Linked DNA regions of Homo sapiens: region 1 is linked to region 2. The links come from fine-mapping of genetic effects on gene expression. A gene starts in region 2. The other region holds a variant in brackets. All regions are shown on one strand. Distances are from middle to middle.

Region 1 (4,374 bases), 94 kb after region 2:
TCCGGGTGTTTGGGGACATGAGCTTATGCCACCACCCCAGACGCCCCCCATCCCCTAGATGTACCCATTACACTCACAGCTCTGGAGCCTCATCTGCCTCTCTCACATCCCAAAGGGAGGGGGACAGGAAGGAACAAAATTTCCATGAGAACAATAGCAGTCTCTGCTAAATTTAACATAAAACAAGAACTCATTACTTCTGCCTGAGATCTGATTTCATGTCTGGATACAGTTAACGGGTTTTTCCTTATATTCCAAAGAAGCAAAGTTAATTCTCAGTGGCCGGTGGCCCTGAGTGGGGTGACGTGGGCCCCACAGGTGCTCTCTGCCCCACCCTCCTCCTCCATCCTCACCTCCTGTCCTGCCAGGGCAGGAGCAGCCCAAGAGAGACCACTCTAAGGTGTGGCACACAGTGTGACCACCCAGGAAAGGACCCAGGCTGTTCTTCCAACTTCTCCCTGAGACCCAGCGCACAGTGGGTGCCCAGGAGGGGTGCCCACTCCCTCACCTGAGACCCATTCTCTGGGGCTGTCGAGGGCTCTTTCTGGAACACAGTCAGCCAGCCAGCCAGCCAGGAGATATTGACTGAGGGCCTGCTATGCTCTGGGGCTGGTGTATTCCTGCCTCATGGAGGAGTGAGGAATCTACGTGGCTGAGTCAGGGCCTAGCCTGGGTGGGGCTGGGGAGGCTCTGTGGGGAACCAGATTTCCACAGAGGACGCTTCCACGGATAAGGAGGACTAGGAGGCAATGGGGAAGGCCTGGCACGCCGCCCGCCTGAGGTAGACAGGAGGGCAGGTCCACTTCTGCGCCCCACTCAGGAAGGCCCTGTGTCCCCCCATCTCCCCGTTGCCCCCCTCAGACTCCAGCCTCAGTGCAGCCCCACCCTCTGCCCTCCACGCCTGACACCCCCCAGGCCCAGTGTGGCTTAGACTTCAGGTCTATGCTGCACTGGTTTCCCACGCCTCTGCTGGCCTTTCTCACCTGCACAGGTGACCCCTTCCCACGCCTCGCTTGGCTGAGCCCAGACTGGCAGCTCTTGCCCTCCACACCTCCAGATCCCCAGAGGGCACTTGTCTGGCACCAGGAGGCCCCGTAAACAGGAATGAAGAGTGAGTCGATAAACAGTAAATCAATCAGCCAATCACTCCATGGATCCATGTGAGTACAAGGAGGATGATTCTCCAAGCACAACAGCCCTTGCCAACCCCAGTGAACCCACCCTTCCCCAGGAAGTCCTGCTCCCGGCTTTACCTCACCCTCCCCACGTGTGGCAGCGCCACAAATCTGGGGACACCTGTGGAGCCCTCGAAGCTAGGGAAGAAGGGCTGTGTTCTCAAACTGTGTTCCTCAGCCCCTGGAGCTAACACAGGTGTTGCCCAGAAAGGGTTCCCGGTCACAGGCCTTTGGGAACCACTGGATTAACACCACTGCTCTCCTGGGGCAGGGCCTTGGAGTCCCTGGGTATTGGGTTAGACCCATGGGCTCCGCCAGTTACCACATGTGCTACTCATCCTCTCTGTGCCTCAGTTTCCACCTCCATGCGTACATGATAACAGCTCCATCCCCGACTGCTGTTGGGAGGGTGAGGTGGGACGACACAGGTAATGCCACTGGGAGTGCCCAGCTCAGAAACCACCCGCACCAACCCTACGGCTGTGACGGAGCCTCTGTGAGAGGGCGTGGGAGGCCGGGTTGCCTACAGTTTGTCTGGGGAGTGTAGGCCTCCCCCACCCCCAGCACAGCCTCCTGGGGGGTTTCTCCCGCATTCCTGGCCCCCAGGGATGGAGCCAGGTGCTGAGCTGGTTGGCACTTCTTGCAGGGAGGCCCAGGTTCTTGGCAGGACCTTTGGACCCAGGCAGCAAAGTGCCCCCAGGTCCAGCACAGAGAGGCAACCGTACAGGGTGGGGCCTGTTCCCCAAACCACCCCCACAACAATCCCAGGTCCACGGCCTGCTGAAGAGGATGACAGGCTGGCTGCAGCCTTAGGCTTCAGGATTGGGGGTGGGTGTGGGGGACATCTCAGGTTTTAATACGCGCCCCAGGG[G/A]AGTTGGAGGCTCAGCCAGGTTTGGGCCGCACAGGAGGGAATTGCCAGGACCTGCATTTCAGGAATGAAAGGAAAACCCTCCAAACATAACCTGTTCTGAAGAGGACCGGGTGGTTGGGGGGCCGTGAGCCTCCCGTTCTTACAGGAAAGCAAGCAGGACTGGCCAGTGCCTCAAAGGCACTGCAGGGGACCTGCTGGCCCCAAAGAGCCCTGACACCATGTCTTCAGCTGGATGCCAGGAGATGGGGTGGTCCCCCGAGAAACCTACCCCACACCACTGCTGCAGCCCCCCACCGTGCCACCCTCCAGCCAAGCCACTTTGGGCCCTTTCCTTCCCCACAAATCTCTCAGGACTTGCATTATCACTGAGATTAGGGGCACGTGTGGGTAAGACCCCCGAATGGCTGCCCTGCGGCCAAGAGGCACCTTAAGTCCCGGGGCTCCGGCTTTGTGTATCTGACTCCGTCTGTTTTGTCAGACTCAGGACTAAAAAGCTCCTGCTCAAATGAGAGAGAGAGAGTGGGTGATACCTACCCCTCCATGGCTGCTTTCCTGTACCTGGAAACTGCCCTTACCTGGCTACCACTGGGTTCTGGAAGCTTCCCTTCTCCTGCCCCTACTTCCCAGGAGGGGTCTCTGGCCTCACCGAGCAACCTGAAGAAGAGGCGTCGGAACCTGGGAGGGGTCTAACACCCCAGGCCACACCCCCACACCCAAGTTCTGTGGCTGAGTCTTATCACCCAGCCTAGGAGGGTCCCGGACGCATGGGAGGGCACCCAGCTGGCCCTGAAATTCTGCCTCCGTGGGTCTGACATTGGCTCATCCACTTTCAGGCACCCCAAATAAGGCATGCTTCCAGGACCCCCCCACACATGCCGCTGCCTCCCCGCCGCCGCACCCACGTCACCTTCCAGTGCTGACACTGCCACCTCCCCACCCGCCACCCTGTCCAGCACCTCCAGAGGACCTTCTCCTCCTGCGGCAAAGTAAACAGGCTCTCTGGAGTGCTAACTGACAGCACAAATGAAATCCTGCACTCCCTCCCTCTAAGATTTACAGGGGAAGTGAAATCTTATTTGCAATGCTGCCAAGCCTGGGACGAGATGAAATTATGCCTCAAGAAGAGAACTGGCCGGCCCGGCGAGGAAGCACTGCATCGGAGATGGGCTTATTAAAACCACAGTGGCCACATTTCAACCTGTTTCAGGTGTTAAGTAATTTACTGCCACCCAGAATTCAGTGGCAGGTTTTTATCATTTTTATTCTTGTGATGCAGGCGAGTGCCCCAGGAGGTCCCTGTGCAGGGAGCTGCGGGTCTAAATGCTCCCTGTCACCCCCGCCCCAGGCACTGCAGAGGGAAATGGGGGCCAGCTGCCTGAAGCGGGTGAGGACACCCTGACTCTCTCCAGGGTTACACCCAGCTTGGCCATAGCTCAGAGTGACGGGGAGGGCAGGCTTTAAGACCCTCACCCCACCCACGTGTGGGGGCTCCATGATCCCTCAAAGACCCTCGGGACGTTTTCTTTTTTTTGATGGAGTCTCGCTCTGTCACCCAGGCTGGTGTACAGTGAGGTGATCTCGGCAGCTTCCGCCTCCCAGGTTCAAGCGATTCTCCTGCCTCAGCCTCCCAAGTAGCTGCGTGTACAGGCGTGTGCTACCACGCCCAGCTAATTTTTGTATTTTTACTAGAGATGGGGTTTCTCCATGTTGGCCAGGCTGGTCTTGAACTCCCAACTTCAATGATCCACCCGCATCGGCCTCCCAAAGTGCTGGGATTACAGGAGTGAGCCACCGCGCCCAGCCCCTCAGGATGTTTTCTGAAGGCAGCAGGAATGTAAGCTCTCTGGGAGCAGAGACTACCCTGTTTCAGGCTGTGACTACCAACCAAGCCTTTATTGAGCACCTACTGCATGCCAGGCCCTGTTCAGATGGGGAACATGCAGCAAATGGGACCGAGAGCCCCCTGCCCTGTGGAGCTCACGTGCTGCCTGCCGGTAAGTGTTGAGTAAATATTTGTGGTTGGTTGATGAAAATCTCCTACAGGCAAACAGGCCCTTGAAAGAAAAGAAGCTGAGGAGGGGGGCAGGGGGAACCGGAGGGAAGTGAGTGGCGGGAGGGAGGGGCGCACTTGACTGAGCATCTGCTACATGCCAGTCATCACAGTGACTGCTGGCAGCCCTGGAAGTGGGGCCTCCCCATGCCGGAGCTGCTGGGGCCAGGTCTCTGCACCTTCCCCTGCTCTGGAGAACTATGCAGAAATGGCTGATACTCCGTCTGAACTCATGAGGAACACAGTCTCCTATTCATGGGGAGCTGGGGACAAGGGGA
Region 2 (4,374 bases):
TTAGGGACAAGGTTGCCCAGGCTGGAGTGTAGTGGCACGATCATAGCTCACTGCAGCCTCAACCTCCTGGGCTCAAGTGATCCTCTCGCCTCAGCCTCCTGAGTAGCTGGGACTACAGGTGCCTAATTTTTTTTTTAAATTATTTTTTGCCGGGTGTGGTGGCTCACGTCTGTAATCCCAGCACTTTGGGAGGCCGAGTTGGGTGGATCACCTGAGGTCAGGAGCTTGAGACCAGCCTGGCCAACATAGTGAAACCCCGTCTCTGCTAAAAATACAAAAATTAGCCAGGCGTAGTGGTGCATTCCTGTAGTTCCAGCTACTCGGGAGGCTGAGGCAGGAGAATTGCTTGAACCTGGGAGGCAGAGGTTGCCATGAGCTGAGATCGTGCCATTGCACTCCAGCCTGGGCGACAAGAGTGAAACGCCGCCCCCCCAAAAAAATTATTATTTTTATTTTTTTGTATTTTTTTTATCTCAAACTCCTGGTCTCAAGCAATCATCCCACCACAGCCCCCCAAAGCTCTGGGATTACAGGTGTGAGCCACCATGGCTGGCTCGAAGATAACATTTTGATATCTAAGTGTGACATGTCAAACAGAGCTACAATCATACAATCCATTCCACTGCGAGGCATTGAGTGCCCGCGCTCTGTGCCAGCTCTGTGGCTTGGTGTGGGGGTGGCAGGGATAGAAAGGGGTCTCTCCTTCAAGACATTTAGTTCAGAAGAGGAGGAAGGCTTGAACATAATTCCTGAGCCACACGCCAAGTGCTGGGATGGAGGAATGACAGAGCCCCAGGGCCACACGTCCATCTGGGGGTCTGGGAAGGCGGGACGGAAACCACAGCTCTGTAAAAATTACAGCCGTCTCTGCATGGACAAGCCTGGAAGGGAGCAGAGGAACGGAAGCTGTTGACGCCACAGGGCGGTGGCATTGTGGGTGATTTTTCTTTCTTTTATTGTTGGTATAATGCTGTTTGGGCAATAAATAAAAATTGGGAGGAAAAAATAGCTGTTTGGTGAATTGAGTAGAAATTGGGAGAAAGAAGAAAGGGAGTTAAGGGGAGGGAAATTAGAAGGGTGAAGTGAGGAGGGAGAGGCAGGAAGGGCAAAGACAGGCGCATGCAGAGCGCACAGAGGCCAGAGGCGGCGGCCTCAGGCTAGGCCCCAGTCTGTTCCCGGACTGGGCGCAAGAGGGCTGGGTTTGCACAGGGAAAGGAGGGGGAGAGGTGCTGGAGTCTCTGTAGGGGGGACCCTCCCCAAGGGGATCTGGGAGGGCATCCCAGAGGGGAGGTGGCCCCCAGGCCTCGATGGACAGCAAAGAGCAGGGCCGGCAGAGGGGGTCCCAGCCAGACTGTGGGCGGTCTGAGGGTGGATCAGGAGCACTGGGGCCCTGGTGGGGGCTCTGGGCAGGCTTGGGACTCAGAGCAGCCACTGACAAGGTGATGAGGTCTGACCAGGGCAGGCCAGGCTGGGTATATGGGAGAGTCCCTTACTTAGTGTCCCAGCGAATGCCAAGAGCACGGGGACTTTCAGGCTAAGAGGAGGCTGTCTGGTCTAAACACTCCCTCACCCCACCCGGATGCCACCCACAGGCATGAACATCTTCCCAGTCTCTAATAGGTGCCAGGCACTGGGCCAGCCACCCTCCCATTCAAGGTCTTCTTCATCTCTCACAGTAACCTTTGGAGCTAGGTAGTAACGGTCCCATTTCACAATCCAGGACACTGAGGCTGGGAGAGGTTCAGCAACTTGGCCAAGGTCACAGTCAGCTGGGGATGGGAGGGGGCGCTGGCATGGGACCCTGGCACTGCCCCCTTAATAGGTGGGAGGGGTATTGCTGGGGAGCGCCCGGGTGTTTACAGCACGCGGCGGATGAGAGGGTCTGCCCAGGGAAGGGGCGCCAGGCAGGAAGGAAGGGGTTACTTTGGCATGCAGAGTAGGCGGTGGGTACCTGTTTGTGAATGAATGCACGGGTGGACGGATGAATGAATGAATGAATGAATGGATGGCTGGAGGGATGGTTGAATGAGTGGGTGCGGAGAGGAGGGTGCTGGGGAGGCGGCGCGTGAGCTAGAACCCCTTTCTCCCCCGCCTCCACGGTGGAGGTTGGCTTTGGGAGCCTCCCTCCCCCAACTCCCCAGAGGGGTCGGCTCCCCCACCCGCCCTTCCCCCAGCCAGTTTAGCCGAGGGCGGGGGAGGGGGGCGCGGAGGCCGCTTCTCCCCGGCTGGGCCAGAATCCCCGCGCGGCGGCGCAGCCTCCCGCGCCGGGTCCCGCCGGCCAGTGCGCAGCGCGGCGCCCCCGTCCTCCTCCCCCTCCCCTCCTCCTCCTCTCCCTCCCCGCTCCGCGCCTGCACGCACGGCCCCCGCCGCCGCCGCCGCGAGGGGAGAGGCGGCCGCACAGCCTGGTTCCCCGCGCCCTGCTCGCCGCCGCCGCTCGCGCGGGCACCGCCGCTGGTCCCCGCCCCGCCGCCGAGCGCACCCGCCCGGGCACACGCACCCCGCCGCTGGACGCACCCCCCGCACTCCTCCCGCGGCTCCGCCGGGCGCCCGAGCCGGGCAGATGCGCCGCCGCGCGCCCCCCGCTCCGGGCCCGCCACCGTGCTCTGCCGCGCGCCGGGGGCTCCTCTCCCGGGCCCCCCTGGGCGCCCTCCGGCTCTGGTTCCCGCCCGCTCCTTGGAATAACCCCTGAGGCTCCAGCCGTCACCGCAAAGTTTCCCGAGGAGACCCGCCTCCCCGGCCGCTGCGCAGGTAGGGCTGGCTGCACCGGGCGGGGGTCGGGGTCCGCGCGTCTGGGACAGGGCGCCAGAGCCGACGGGGCGGGGGCCGGGGGCCCGGGGGCACCGAAGCGCCACGGGGTCAGGCAGCCTGGCTTTGCCCCAGAGCGGCGGGAGATGGGACGCCCAGCCTTTGGGATTTGGGGTGGGGGTCCCTGAGTCAAGAGCCAAGCACCAGTAGCGGTGGCGCTGGCCCCGCCGCGGGGAGGCGCGGGGTGCGCGGCCGGCGGCTCAGCTCTCCCGAGCCGAGGCTGGAAAGGGCGGGGGCTCAGCTGGAGCTCTAGTCCAAGCCCTCGCTGCACCCCCCAGGGAGGGGGCCTGGCCCGTGGGGGGCGTCAGGCCGGTCATGTGGGTCCCAGCTCCCGCACTCGGGAACCGGAGGAGGGCGCGCGGCCAGGGACAGCCGGCCGGCCTGGGCGCCGCGCTCCCGTCCCCACCAGCCGCGTGAGTCACGGTTGGAGCGAGGTTTTATTTTTAAAACGACTTCAAGGGGGGCATGAGCAGCCTCCAACTTCCCTCCCTGTGCGCGCTGTGGACCGTCAGCCCTGAGCCGGGCGGGGGCTGGGGCCGTACACCTGGCGGCTGGAACGGTGAGACCATGGTGCCTGGGCGGGGGGCGGCGGGCACCCCCCATCCCCCAGCTCTCAAGACAAGGAGGCGGCCCGACCCGGCGGCGCACGCCCCTCCTCGCGGGCACTGGAGACCCCGGGGAGGAAGGCTGGGGAGTGTTGTCGCCCAGCTGCAGGGAACCGTGGTTGATCAGAGCTCCCCGAGGAGGAGAAAGTTGTGGAACAGGGACACCAGGGAGCTGCCACAGCCTTCCCGGTGGCCCCGGGAGGTCTTCGAGGCCCTCCAGGGTGGGCAGTTTTGAGAGAATACAGCCCAGCTGGGGTGTGCCAGGCCCCCGAGGCCCAAGCCAGAGCTCTGATGTGAATAAATACAGCCAAGGCTGGGGACGGAGGTGAGGGGTGACTGAGAACAGCCCTGCCTCACCGCGGCCCCTACGCCCTCGGGTTGGATGGAAACCAGCCCCTCCACATCCCCCTCCCCAGGTGGCTCAGGAGTTAGGAAGGAGGCTGTCTGTGGGGGGGACCCACGATGCCACTGTGGAGGGAGGTGGCTGAGGCACCCTGTCTCTGCCCGGCGGCCGCGGGGGAGGCAGCCGCCGCGCTCAGGGGCTCCAGATTCCAGTTTCTGGAGTTGAAAGCTACTGCATCTCTTCCGCCAGCCCCGGGAGGAGAGGCGCAGACATCACCTGTCAGCTGGTGCTGACTCCGTGGGCGACTGTTCAGGGCTTCCTCAGAAGGTTTAAAATGGAAATGGCCTGAGCTGACAGGGCCCGTGCCTGGGAGGGGACGCTGCCTAGCTGGGCCAGCAGTGAGGGGGCCCTGGTAGGTGTGAGGGGCAGGAAGAGCTGAGGGCTGTCACATATCTGGCTGAAGGGTCGGCCATGGGCACAGGGTGTGTGTGTGTGTGCGCACCCAGTCCCATGTTCTTTCCCAGACACAGAGACTGGATACTCTTCAGTAAAAAGCACCCTGACCCCAGCATGGAGGCTCCGTAGCCCACACCCCCAAGGCAGCTGTGGCCTGCTGGACTT

Which allele goes with the higher level. Alleles are on the strand shown, and positions count from the first base shown. SD is a standard deviation of normalised expression in the study named.
With allele A in place of G in region 1, the expression in tibial nerve of the gene that starts at base 2,520 in region 2 is lower (small effect, 0.40 SD a copy in GTEx).

What was found. PIP is the estimated chance that this variant, and not a neighbour inherited with it, causes the effect.
Region 1: its variant is the best candidate, but not a certain one, in a credible set for the expression of FLRT1 in tibial nerve (GTEx, PIP 0.61).

What each region holds. Positions count from the first base shown.
Region 1 is chr11:64,127,777-64,132,150 of GRCh38, forward strand. All of the region lies in intron 3 of MACROD1 (mono-ADP ribosylhydrolase 1), which reads right to left. Among named protein-coding and RNA genes, the nearest start is that of MACROD1, 36 kb to the right of the region's middle. RefSeq lists an enhancer at 1,701-2,294. The variant G/A (reference allele first, on the strand shown) is at 2,047.
Region 2 is chr11:64,033,412-64,037,785 of GRCh38, forward strand. It overlaps FLRT1 (fibronectin leucine rich transmembrane protein 1), which reads left to right and starts at 2,520. Exons shown (of 3, transcript NM_013280.5): 1 at 2,520-2,748. The region is part of intron 3 of MACROD1 (mono-ADP ribosylhydrolase 1); the gene reads right to left. RefSeq lists enhancers at 2,560-3,462, 3,463-4,364.